Homo sapiens: one gene and its partners. The protein of the gene in region 3 purifies or fractionates together with the protein of the main gene of each other region. This does not show direct contact. Each region holds a gene or a part of one and is shown on either strand. Other genes may lie near its edges. The genes, in order: SCFD1, TMEM131L and SLC12A3.

The links.
Region 1: the proteins of SLC12A3 (region 3) and SCFD1 purify together in Homo sapiens (affinity purification with mass spectrometry; one large-scale study listed by BioGRID and IntAct). This does not show direct contact.
Region 2: the proteins of SLC12A3 (region 3) and TMEM131L purify together in Homo sapiens (affinity purification with mass spectrometry; one large-scale study listed by BioGRID and IntAct). This does not show direct contact.

Annotation. Positions count from the first base shown.
Region 1 is NC_000014.9:30,670,788-30,674,520, forward strand, and holds part of SCFD1 (sec1 family domain-containing protein 1), read left to right. Parts: intron 1-2,469; coding exon 2,470-2,560; intron 2,561-3,136; coding exon 3,137-3,210; intron 3,211-3,733. UniProt on the Homo sapiens protein: Plays a role in SNARE-pin assembly and Golgi-to-ER retrograde transport via its interaction with COG4. Involved in vesicular transport between the endoplasmic reticulum and the Golgi.
Region 2 is NC_000004.12:153,581,281-153,585,013, reverse strand, and holds part of TMEM131L (transmembrane protein 131-like isoform 1 precursor), read right to left. Parts: intron 3,608-3,733; coding exon 3,454-3,607; intron 1,825-3,453; coding exon 1,766-1,824; intron 1,451-1,765; coding exon 1,342-1,450; intron 180-1,341; coding exon 83-179; intron 1-82.
Region 3 is NC_000016.10:56,910,207-56,913,278, reverse strand, and holds part of SLC12A3 (solute carrier family 12 member 3), read right to left. Parts: intron 16-3,072; coding exon 1-15. UniProt on the Homo sapiens protein: Electroneutral sodium and chloride ion cotransporter, which acts as a key mediator of sodium and chloride reabsorption in kidney distal convoluted tubules.

The DNA of each region.
Region 1 (3,733 bases), on a different chromosome or scaffold from region 3:
GTGGAGAGAGTACCTAAGCCTAAAAGCCTAGAAATTTATTCAAAGTACATTAGAAATAATGAGTGATAAAACTGCATTAATTTGCCATGTGATTTACTGTGGGCAGATATACATATCCCATGTGATGCTATGCCCCCTTAAAGTTTAGGGTACTTCATGGGCTCAGTTACTGCTATAAAAGTTATCTAGTGATCATTATGGCTAGAGCCATCATTCTAAACAAACAAAAATATTATTCCTCAGAGAAAAAGAATACTGTTCATCAACAATTATGAAAATATGATTTTTAAAAAATATTTCAAAATGTGTGTGTGTCCTTGATATAGCTGTTCTTTTTGGGCTTATATTTATTGTTTAAAGAGAAGTCGAATATAGACTTGGTTCAACATGCTGGGTTTTTAATATGCTTTATCTTTTTTTTACTTACAACTTTTTTTTAAGCTGGAAAATCAAATCGCCATAACAAAGATTTGACTTTCTCTGCAGAGAAAAGTCACTGTCTTTCTCTTTCTCACTATGGCAGTTTTAGGTACTATTTTAATTAATTTTAATAAATTTGATTTTAAATAATACTCTTCCCTTTGGAATTCCATAATCTACGTTTCCCTCCAGAATGGTGAAGTACAAGAAATTACTTTTATTAGAGAGGCATTATTTATAGAGAATACAGAATATTTTGAAGTTGGCATTCCCTAATAGAGAAAAGCTTAAGAAAAAAATCTCTGTATTCAAATATGGAAATTTTGAATTTTTTTAGAACATATGTTTAAGAACAATTTAAGAGGTCAGTTGAATAGTAAGAATTTTAACCTCCTATTCATTAAGTAGGAATAGCTCTTTTGCTCTGCATCTTACATACAATAGTAACATGGGCACAAAGACACTTGGAGATAGCATAAACAAGTGACCTAAACCTCTCTGAGCTTCAGTTTCCTCATCAGTAAAATAGGGAGATAATAATTCTACCTATTGCCCTATTTCAGAAGGTTGTTGAGAAGATTGAGATAATGAATTTAAAGGAGTAATTTGCCCAAGTCATCCAGCTTTCGTTGGTAAAGCCAGGGATGAAACCCAGGTCTTGCAGACCATAAAGCACCCAGTCTTAACATTGAATAGTTAAGTTATGATAGTTACCTCAACAGATTCATCAGGATTAAATGAGGTTGCAGTGAGCCGAGATCACGCCATTGCACTCCAGCCTGGGCAACAAGAGCAAAACTCCATCTTAAAAAAAAAAAAAAGAAAGAAAAGATAAATTCTTAGCATGGTGTTTGATGTATAGTAAAATCACTTAATAAATGTGAGCAATTATTCTCTGTTAACTCTGAGACCTAAAGATATCAGAGATTTTGAGGATTATCCAGTTCAACCCACACATTTTACAGATAAAGCTAGGGCCCTGAGAGGGTAAGAGCTTGCCTGTAAAGGAAGTTTCCATTATAATTAGATGGAACAAGGGTTTCTGACTCCCCAGTGCAATGCTGAGGCCTCAGTGCTATTTTTTGCCAACATAGACTCAACTGGAGCTGGAGTAAATGCCTGTGCTTGTGAGGTAAAATTGGACTGTGTTCCTCAGAATCCTTTCTGAGCTCCTGTCTTTTCTGCTAGTCTCCATTGGATAAAATGTGCTTGTTATTAGAGAGGTATTTTCAGATGTCAGAGCTGAGGAAGGGGGGAAAGGTTTTTGTTCACTGTTAATGAGACATGACCTTTTCTTTCTTAAAGGAGAAAAGGCTTCTGGCCTCCCCCTAGGCTGTAGATGAAAAATACTCATTTTAAGAAACATTTAATGATCAACATGTATTCACCTAGAGTTTGTCAAGATTAGTACAGTGTTTTCTACCTGAGTGCTCATGATTGCAGATCACTTCTGCCTAAAGTCTATGTAAGTTACTGCTAAACCACAATGTCCTGGTAGAAGACATCAGGTATTAGGCCACCAAAACTGTGGCCCAAGTGCTATTTTTACCAGTAGTGTTCTGGGATATTATGAGTTCTGAGTTACAAGAATTTTTTCACAGTTACTTGCAGGTGATATTTTTAAATGCTGTCTTTGTAGTTGCATGGACCCTTTGACATGACGTGTTAATTTGGATGGGAATATTTAATTGATATTTGATATAACATGACTTGTCTTCCATTGATTTTCAGTCATGTAAATATTTTACTTTTTCTTCTAAAAACGTATAAGTGAAGAGAATGTATGATACTGTTAATGAAAAATAGAAATGAAATTTAAATTTTAGATGTATATTATATGCATTTTAAAGAAATAGTATTATATAGATATCAGAAAGATATGTAGTTGTATTTGTGCTGAATCTTTTCTGCCTTTGTTATATATAACATATATTCAAATCCAAATAAGTATATTTAAAATAATAAATGTTCATTGTATATATTTTAGAATTTACACAAAAATTGGTCTTTTAATGTCATCCTCATAGTTCTTGTGCAATACTGTTTTAGTCCATTCCCAGAAGTTGCAGAATCAGTTCAGCAAGAACTAGAATCTTACAGAGCACAGGAAGATGAGGTCAAACGACTTAAAAGCATTATGGTAAGATTCTATTTGCTTTCTAAGAATTATAGGAAAGAGGAGGATTATCTGTTAGATAAAGAGATTTGGGTTTTTTTCCTTATAAAAATTGAAGGCCATTTAATGCTTTTATAACAAAAATATTTTCAACTTGCGTAAGTGATCAAAAAGAAATCTAAATATTGAGAAGAGAAAAAATAATATATGATTTGAAAAAATATATAATGTAGCATCATTTTAGAGATGTATGTTCCAATGCTGCTCATTCTACCATACTTCGATGTAACTTCAGATTTCAGCTCTACTGTTTATTGCTGTGTGACCTATGGCACGTCTCTGGGCCTGTCTCCTTATCCAAAAATGCCAGCTGATCATTTAGACATCTAACCATTAGACTGGCGATTACTAGAACTTTTATGTAACATTAAAATATATATGCTTGCACCTCAGAGGAGGAGAATTACTATTCTAGGTGACTTAAAAATCTTACGGTATATCAATAATCTTAGGATATTTGCTCCAATCTTAGGATGTGTTGATTTTTATGCTTGTGCCTGGGATTTTTGAGTAGCTATTGAGACCTTTTTTCTTTACAAGGGACTAGAAGGGGAAGATGAAGGAGCCATAAGTATGCTTTCTGACAATACCGCTAAGCTAACATCAGCTGTTAGGTAAGTGAGCAGTATATCCTCTTTGAAGTCTTTCTGTTGATAGGATTTTTTTTTTATTTAACTAAAAAATTGTTAATGTTTTTAACTAGTAGGAAACTGTAGGCAATAGCAAATATAACTTTGAATTTAAAGAACTAAATTGTATTTAGCTAAATGTTTAAGCCGATTTTAGTTCCCTCTTAGATATAGGAGATTATTCATTCTTTCACCAGTTAGAACTGTGTAATAGGGGTAATTTTATGAGGAAAATACTATTAATGATAAAGTAGGGCAAGCGATTATTAATTTTATTATAGATACTGTTTTCTTAACTAAAAGTTAAACAGTTTTTTCTGTACTTTGAATGCCATTAAGGAGGGAGGAGGCTGGGCGCGGTAGCTCACGCCTGTAATCCCAACACTTTGGGAGGCTGAGGCGGGCAGATCACAAGGTCAAGAGATTGAGACCATCCTGGCCAACATGGTGAAACTCCATCTCTACTTAAAAAAATAAATAAATAAATTAGCTGAGAGTGGTGGTGCAC
Region 2 (3,733 bases), on a different chromosome or scaffold from region 3:
CACTATATTTTTAAACCATTTCTAGAGGGGAAAACAACAACAACAACCATACAAGATTTCAGGGAAAGTGGAAGTAACCTACCCCTGAGCCACAGAAGAGAAGAGGCATGCTTTTAGTGTTGGAGTGTGTGTTGTTTTCTTCACATCTTCTATAATTCCACTGTCACATGATGTAGCTGCTTTGTGGTATAAAGAAATAAATGTGAAGCTTAAGTACCTTTTCTTTCATTAAGCCTGAACAAAAGATATATGTCTTATTTATAAATTTTTATTCACTTTTCTGTCTCCATTAAAATAGTGAATCAGACATAAAAGGTAACTACTTTCTCAAATGTTCCTGTCATCTTCTTTGTTGCCAATTATCCAGAAGTCCATACTTTTAAAAACCAACTTCTCTACCAGAAATGACAAAAGTGAAACAAGAAGCTCACTTGGCAGAGTAAAATGTGTGGAGGCACGAGCAAGAAAGGAATAAAACCTAAAGAGCAAAAGGGAGCTGACCAGCAAAAAGTGGGCTGCATTTGAAAGCAGTGCTGATTGATCAAAATAATACTTTTAAGCTCTCCTTGATTAGGTTATAATATTGAGTCGCTTGTGTTCAATTCTTAACTCTCTGATGCTAATAACCAACTTTTTTAAAGTTATATATATGGTTTTTAAAAATTCAAACACTAACAAAAAAATGTGAAAATAAAATCTACCTTTCTTCACCCTGACTCCCAATTATCTTGGAGGAGGCAGCTGTTAGCAGTTTCTGCAACATCCTTCCAGGTGTTCTGTGCATGTATAAGTACACAGATATCCTCTAAAAAAAAATTAAATGTACACACACTGCTCGCATCGCTGTCCATGCATGTTTCTGAACACTCTCTCACATCTGAACACAGATGATCAGCTGTTCTGTCCTAACAAACACACATTTCTTATAGGTACAGTTTTGAATACATACATATCTGGAGGATAAACTCTTAAAACTAGAATTAAGGATCAAAGAGTAAATATGTGCATTTTAAATTTTCATAGAGATTTGCCAATTTTCCCTCAAAAACAGCCTGCATAGACTCCTGTCAAAAACCTAACAGTGCTTTCCTTCCTAATCGTTATCAACACAGAATATTAAGCTTTAAACTCAAAATTCTACATATGTGGCAGAATAAAAGTGGCATCAACAATAGTTTCTACATCATACTATCTTAGAACTACTAAGGCTGGGACTTCTTGAAATCAAACGCATTCCCTTCACTTTTTTGAAACCATGCCTAATCTGTAGTTGTAGAAAGAGTTGCCATCATGACAACCAGATAACAAAAGTCAAATGACAATCTGTTTAAAAATCTGTACCTTTGCAGGTAAAAGAAGCAATTTTTGTAAAGTTTGTTGTAGAAGTAGGTAGTAGTACTGGTTCAAACTGCAGAGACAGAGCATCTCTCTGTGAGAAATGGCGTATATCCTGAAATAAAAGAAAAGTCCCATGTGACTACTCTCAGCTGGGAGAGTATTTATCCAGTTTGAATGAACCGTTAGAATAAATAGCACAGACCAGCCATACATAGCAACTGCTCAGCATCTGTGCCATAACCATATGGAGGGGATGCTGACAATCTTCATACAAACAGAGGTTCAAGCAAGGGCAAATGGGCTTAAATTAAAGCAAAAAAGAATAAAGATAGTGCTTCTGTCTCTGTTCCTGAAAAACCCTCATATTCTACAATTAAATGCACACTTGCAATTTTAAAAGTTACTTTAGGTAAGCATTTACAATTACCTGTATCCATATAAGGCTGTTTCCTGAATGTAATATATACATATTTACTGCTGAATCATCTGTCCAAAAGAATCAGAGTATTAAAGCAGAGTATTTAATCAGAGATTAAAACAGAGCCATCTCATTCTCACACCTTCATATAATCATTAAAATACCACATTACACATTTCTATAAAAAATGTTAACTTGTTTCTCAAAACTGAAATCAAAACTAGGAGGTGTTTTCTTTTTTTTTTTCTTTTTTAATCACAAGAAAAAAGATCCTCATAAAAATGCCTACCAACCTAAGCCCTCTAAATGATGAGGAACTACCAGGAGCAAAATTCTGAGTTTAGGGTCACACAATGCTCTTCTGAATGAAACTAACCAACTGGACGACTTCAAATAAAGCTATGTTCTCCTGTTGATTAGAAAGCTCCTCATTTCCTCATTTGGATAACCACATTTGGAAAGAAGAAAATCCTGAGATCTCAGGTTTCAGGCTTCCTTTTAGCCCTCACCCACAGAAGTGGTCCCCATGGGTCAGGGATCTGCCCTCATAGATGTTCACTGGCCACTATGAGAATCACCAAGCACTGAGGACAGGAGAGCTCTCCTGCTGATCCAGCACTACCACAGCCAGCTCTGAAGACTGAAAGGTAAAGGCTGTTTAACCAATTAAGACTGCCAAAGCAGGGCACGGTGGCTCATGCTTGCAATCCCAGCACTTTGGGAGGCCAAGCGGGGAGGAATGCTTGAGCCCAGGAGTTCAAGACCATCCTGAGCAACACAGGGAGAACCTGTCTCTACAAAAAAAAAAAAAAAAAAAAAAAAAACAACAAAAAAAAACGGTTTAAATTAGCCAGGCATAGTGGTGTGCGCCTGTGGTCCCAGCTACTTGGGAGGCCAAGGTGGCAGGATCGCTTGAGCCCAGGAGGCTGAGGTTGCAGTGAGCCGAGATCACATCTCTGTGCTCCCACCTGGGCTACACAGCAAAATCCTGTCTAAAAAAAACAAAAACAGAAACAAAACCAAAAAACAAACAAAAAAACCCAAAGAATAAAAACCATACTTTCTTGAATATGAATACAAATATACAGTCACATTCAGAAGTCTTGATAACCAAAAGATACTAGTATACTCTACGTTAGGAATTTCATGGATCACAGAATGTGTCTCTGAAAAAAGTTCTTAGGAAGTTAAACAGATGAATGCATTTATTTCTGATAAGTAGGACACACATTTCCAAAGATAAAATTCATAAAACTGAACACTAAAATTCTACCTAACTTGTCAAGCATCCAGGAACAACCGCAACCTATTAGCTATTTAAAATACAAAACAGCATGATGTGGTTAAATGAGCTTAGGCAAATCATTAAAAGTGGAACAAGAAACCCAAGACTTCAAATACTTTGTAAATATTTATATTAAACTGTCATGCCCATTTAATTTCCTTACTGTCTCCAAACATGAAGAAAAATTATTCCTAAGGAAACTCAGAATAGTTTGCAGTTGTCACTTCTCCCCAAAATAATACAGCCTTCTTAGCAGTTGTAGGTTGAGAACCAGTTACTACTACAATCACTTAATAATTAAAGCAAAGGCTATTTGTCTTGGTTTGCTATGATACAATCTGTTCATAAATGCTATAGAATGATGATGCAGACTGATGAAAATATAATAAAATTTTTAAACATTCCACCTTACCTGAGGTCTCAGATTCATCTGTAGCTACGTAAACAATAGAGAGATGATCTAACAAATGTTGTGTGTTTTCTTCAAATTCTTTTGAAAAGTTTTCCATTGTTACCATTATGCTCATTTGTAGACGCAAAACATCATCAGATTCCAGATAACAACCCTATGGTTGGAAGGAGGAGGAAAAAAGGAAAAAAAAAATCATCTCAACTTTGTGGTTTCAAACTATGGAGGAAAGGAGAAGCATTTAACGTAATGGGACGTGTGTGAGAACAGAATATGCTGTTTT
Region 3 (3,072 bases):
CCTATGGGCAAAGTGCTGCAAGGCATGAAAAAGTGGTAGAAGAGAGATTACCACGGGGCCGCTCCACACGCCCAGCTCCCAGTTTGTTTTCAGAACAGCGAGTCTGTTTACCGTCCCTCAGAGCTCCTTCCACCCACCCTAAGAATGACCTCCCCACTTTCCGCACAAACCTGACCCAGAATGGACCTTCTGCCGTGAAGCGTTTCTAAACAAAGCCATGGCCCACAAGCCCTATGGGATCTAGTCCTTGCCAAGCCCACGACCTCACCTCCTCCCACCCTCGCCTTGCTCACCCCCGATGCCCTGTGGCTTTCTTTCCATTCCTAAAAAAATGCCAAGCTCACTCCTGCCTCCAACCTTTGCACTTGACGTTCTCCCCACCCACCAGGAAAGGAGCAGCCCCAGCTCTGCACCTGGTCACTTCCTTTGAGTCAGGCAAGTGCACCCACCTCCTCCCTGATCACTCCTCCAGGGCAGGCCGCCCACGCCTCTTCCTCACATCACCCCACTTTACTGCCTTCAGAGCCCTCCACAGTCCCAACAGCATCTTCTGATTTATGTGCTTGTCTCCCCACATTAGAATGTTCGCTCACAAGGAGGCCAGATCTGCCTTATTCACCCCCCTTTTCCCAGTGCCTAGAACACAGTCTGATACAGTCAGGCTCAGTATATATTTGTTAAGTGGGCGACCCTTCCCTATCAGGCCACCCGCTTCATGCCAGGCTTGCCTCTCCAGCCCTGTGCCAGCCTGTGGCCACAGCAATGTGATATGTTCCTGTTCATTCATTGTCCAGCTCAGCGTCTTTGTCCTGCCTCCTGCCCTGTGCAGGAGGCCCTGGGAGCAAGACTCCACCGCTGCCTATGGGGAGGCCCCTTGTCTTAACTGTGCAATGCTGCGTGAATAAAAAGATGCCCTGGGAATGCTGTCCAGCCATGTCTTCCAACTATTTCAGGAAGTGACTTTTCTACTATCTGGAGAATTCCAAAAATGCATTGGGATGGCCACAGCTGCCCAGCTCTGGGCTCCAGGAGGGTCTGTGGGCTCCAGCAGTGTCTCACAGGTCCAGCTGGTGCCGCATGAAGTGGGGGCACCAGCACCTTCCGTGGGACTCACTTGAGTGTCTGTTTTCCCCAAGTACATCCCCCTGGGGAATGGGCAGGGCCCGCAGCACCGCGCTCCTTCACAGGTGGGAGAACTGGGGCGGGAGGAGGATGCTGGAGCGCTGAGGTCAGAGCCAGTCTCTGGCGTCCGAGTCGTGGCTTTGCCACTTCCTCAGCCAGATGACCTTTGCAGAGTTTCTCTTCCCTAAAGCAAGAACACAAAAACCTCCCTCGCAGGATGTTTGTGATGCTAAAACAGGCAAAGCACACGCAGGCACAGCACAATGCCTGGCACACAGTGAGTGCTCTGTAAGGTCAGCAGCTGTCATCACCACTTAGTACTGACCAGCACGCGACAGCTAAGCCAGCGGCGGCAAAGCTGGAATTCGAACCGAGGTCTTGACATCTTCCCTCCGCAGCAGCCTCTGCTCACAGCAACTCCAACCTCCTCTGAGAAGGGTAACTGGGATACTAAACAGCTATGTCACACTTGGAAGTTCCATCCACAAAGCTTCACCTGGGACAAGCCCTACCCTCCTTTAAAAAGCAATGTCCCGGGCCAGGCATGGTCACACCTGTAATCCCAGCACTTTGGGAGGCCGAGGTGGGCAGATCACTTGAGCCCAGGAGTTTGAGACCAGCCTGGGCAACATGGTGAGACCCTGTCTTTACAAAAAATAGAAAAATTAGCTGGGCATGATGGCACACGCCTGTGGTCCCAGCTCCTCAGGATGCTGAGGCGGGAGGATCGTTTGAGCCTGGGAGGTCGAGGCTGCAGTGAGCATGATTGCGCCACTGCACTGCAGCCTGGGCAACAGAGTGAGACTCTGTCTCAAAACAAACAAACAAACAAACAAACAAACAAACAAAAGGTCTCAAAAATTAGGGAAGGTGGGTTGGACCAAGGCCATTTCATTAAGCTATAGTCATCTGAGTTCAAATATTTAGTGACTTTCCAGGAGAAAGGGACATAGGAGTACTGAGCCCAAACTCTCCTGACTGAGCAGTTATGCAAGAGGCGGACAACATCCAGGAAATAGGACATGATTTCGGGGACTGAATTCAGAAACTTCAAAGGCCACGAGAGAAATGGTGCCTGCACCATGGGGGTGGGGAACATCCAACACACCTATGTCAGACTTTCAAGCTTCAGCATGGAGTTCCCTCCCCCAACACAGCCTGTCCACCTGTCCGAGAGACAGCTGTCTTGAAAATCACCCCCGCCCCCACACCAGTCAATGACGTGCTCTATTCCTGCTCACAGGATGTGCATGCCTTGAGCTACTAATCTTCAGAAATAAAACTGTTCCAGAACAAAGGAACATTTTTTCAGAATTACATCTCTTAGCCACAAAGAAAGGCGACTTCAGATCTAACCTAGATGTGAAAGACAGCCCTGCATCAGAACCACAGTCACAGGCTCCAGATGCAATTCCCACTTCCTGTCTGCAAGACCCTGGCCAAGTTGCTTAACTTCTCTGAAGCTGCTTCCTCATCTCTAAAGTGGGAGTGAGGGGGTGATTATAATAGAGTTTTGAGGCCAGGCACAGTGGCTCATGCCTGTAATCCCAGCACTTTGGGAGGCCAAGGCAGGTGGATTGCTTGAGCTCAGGAGTTGGAGACCAGCCTGGGCCAACATGGTAAAACCCTGTCTCCATAAAAAAATACAAAAAACTAGCCAGGCCTGGTGGTATGTGCCTGTAGTCCCAGCTACTCGGGAGGCTGAGGTAGGAGGATTGTTTGAGTCCCGGGAGGTGGGGGTTGCAGTGAGCTGAGATCTCACTACTGCTCTCTAGCCTGGGTGACAGAGTAAGACCCCGCCACCAAAACAAAGAAAATTATAGGACCAAAGATGCCCAAAGAGGCCTGAGTCACAGGTTACAGAAAGAGAAAAAACAACAACAACAAAAAAAAACAAAGAGGTTGCCGTGAGCCGAGATCCTGCCACTGCACTCCAGCCTGGGTGACAGA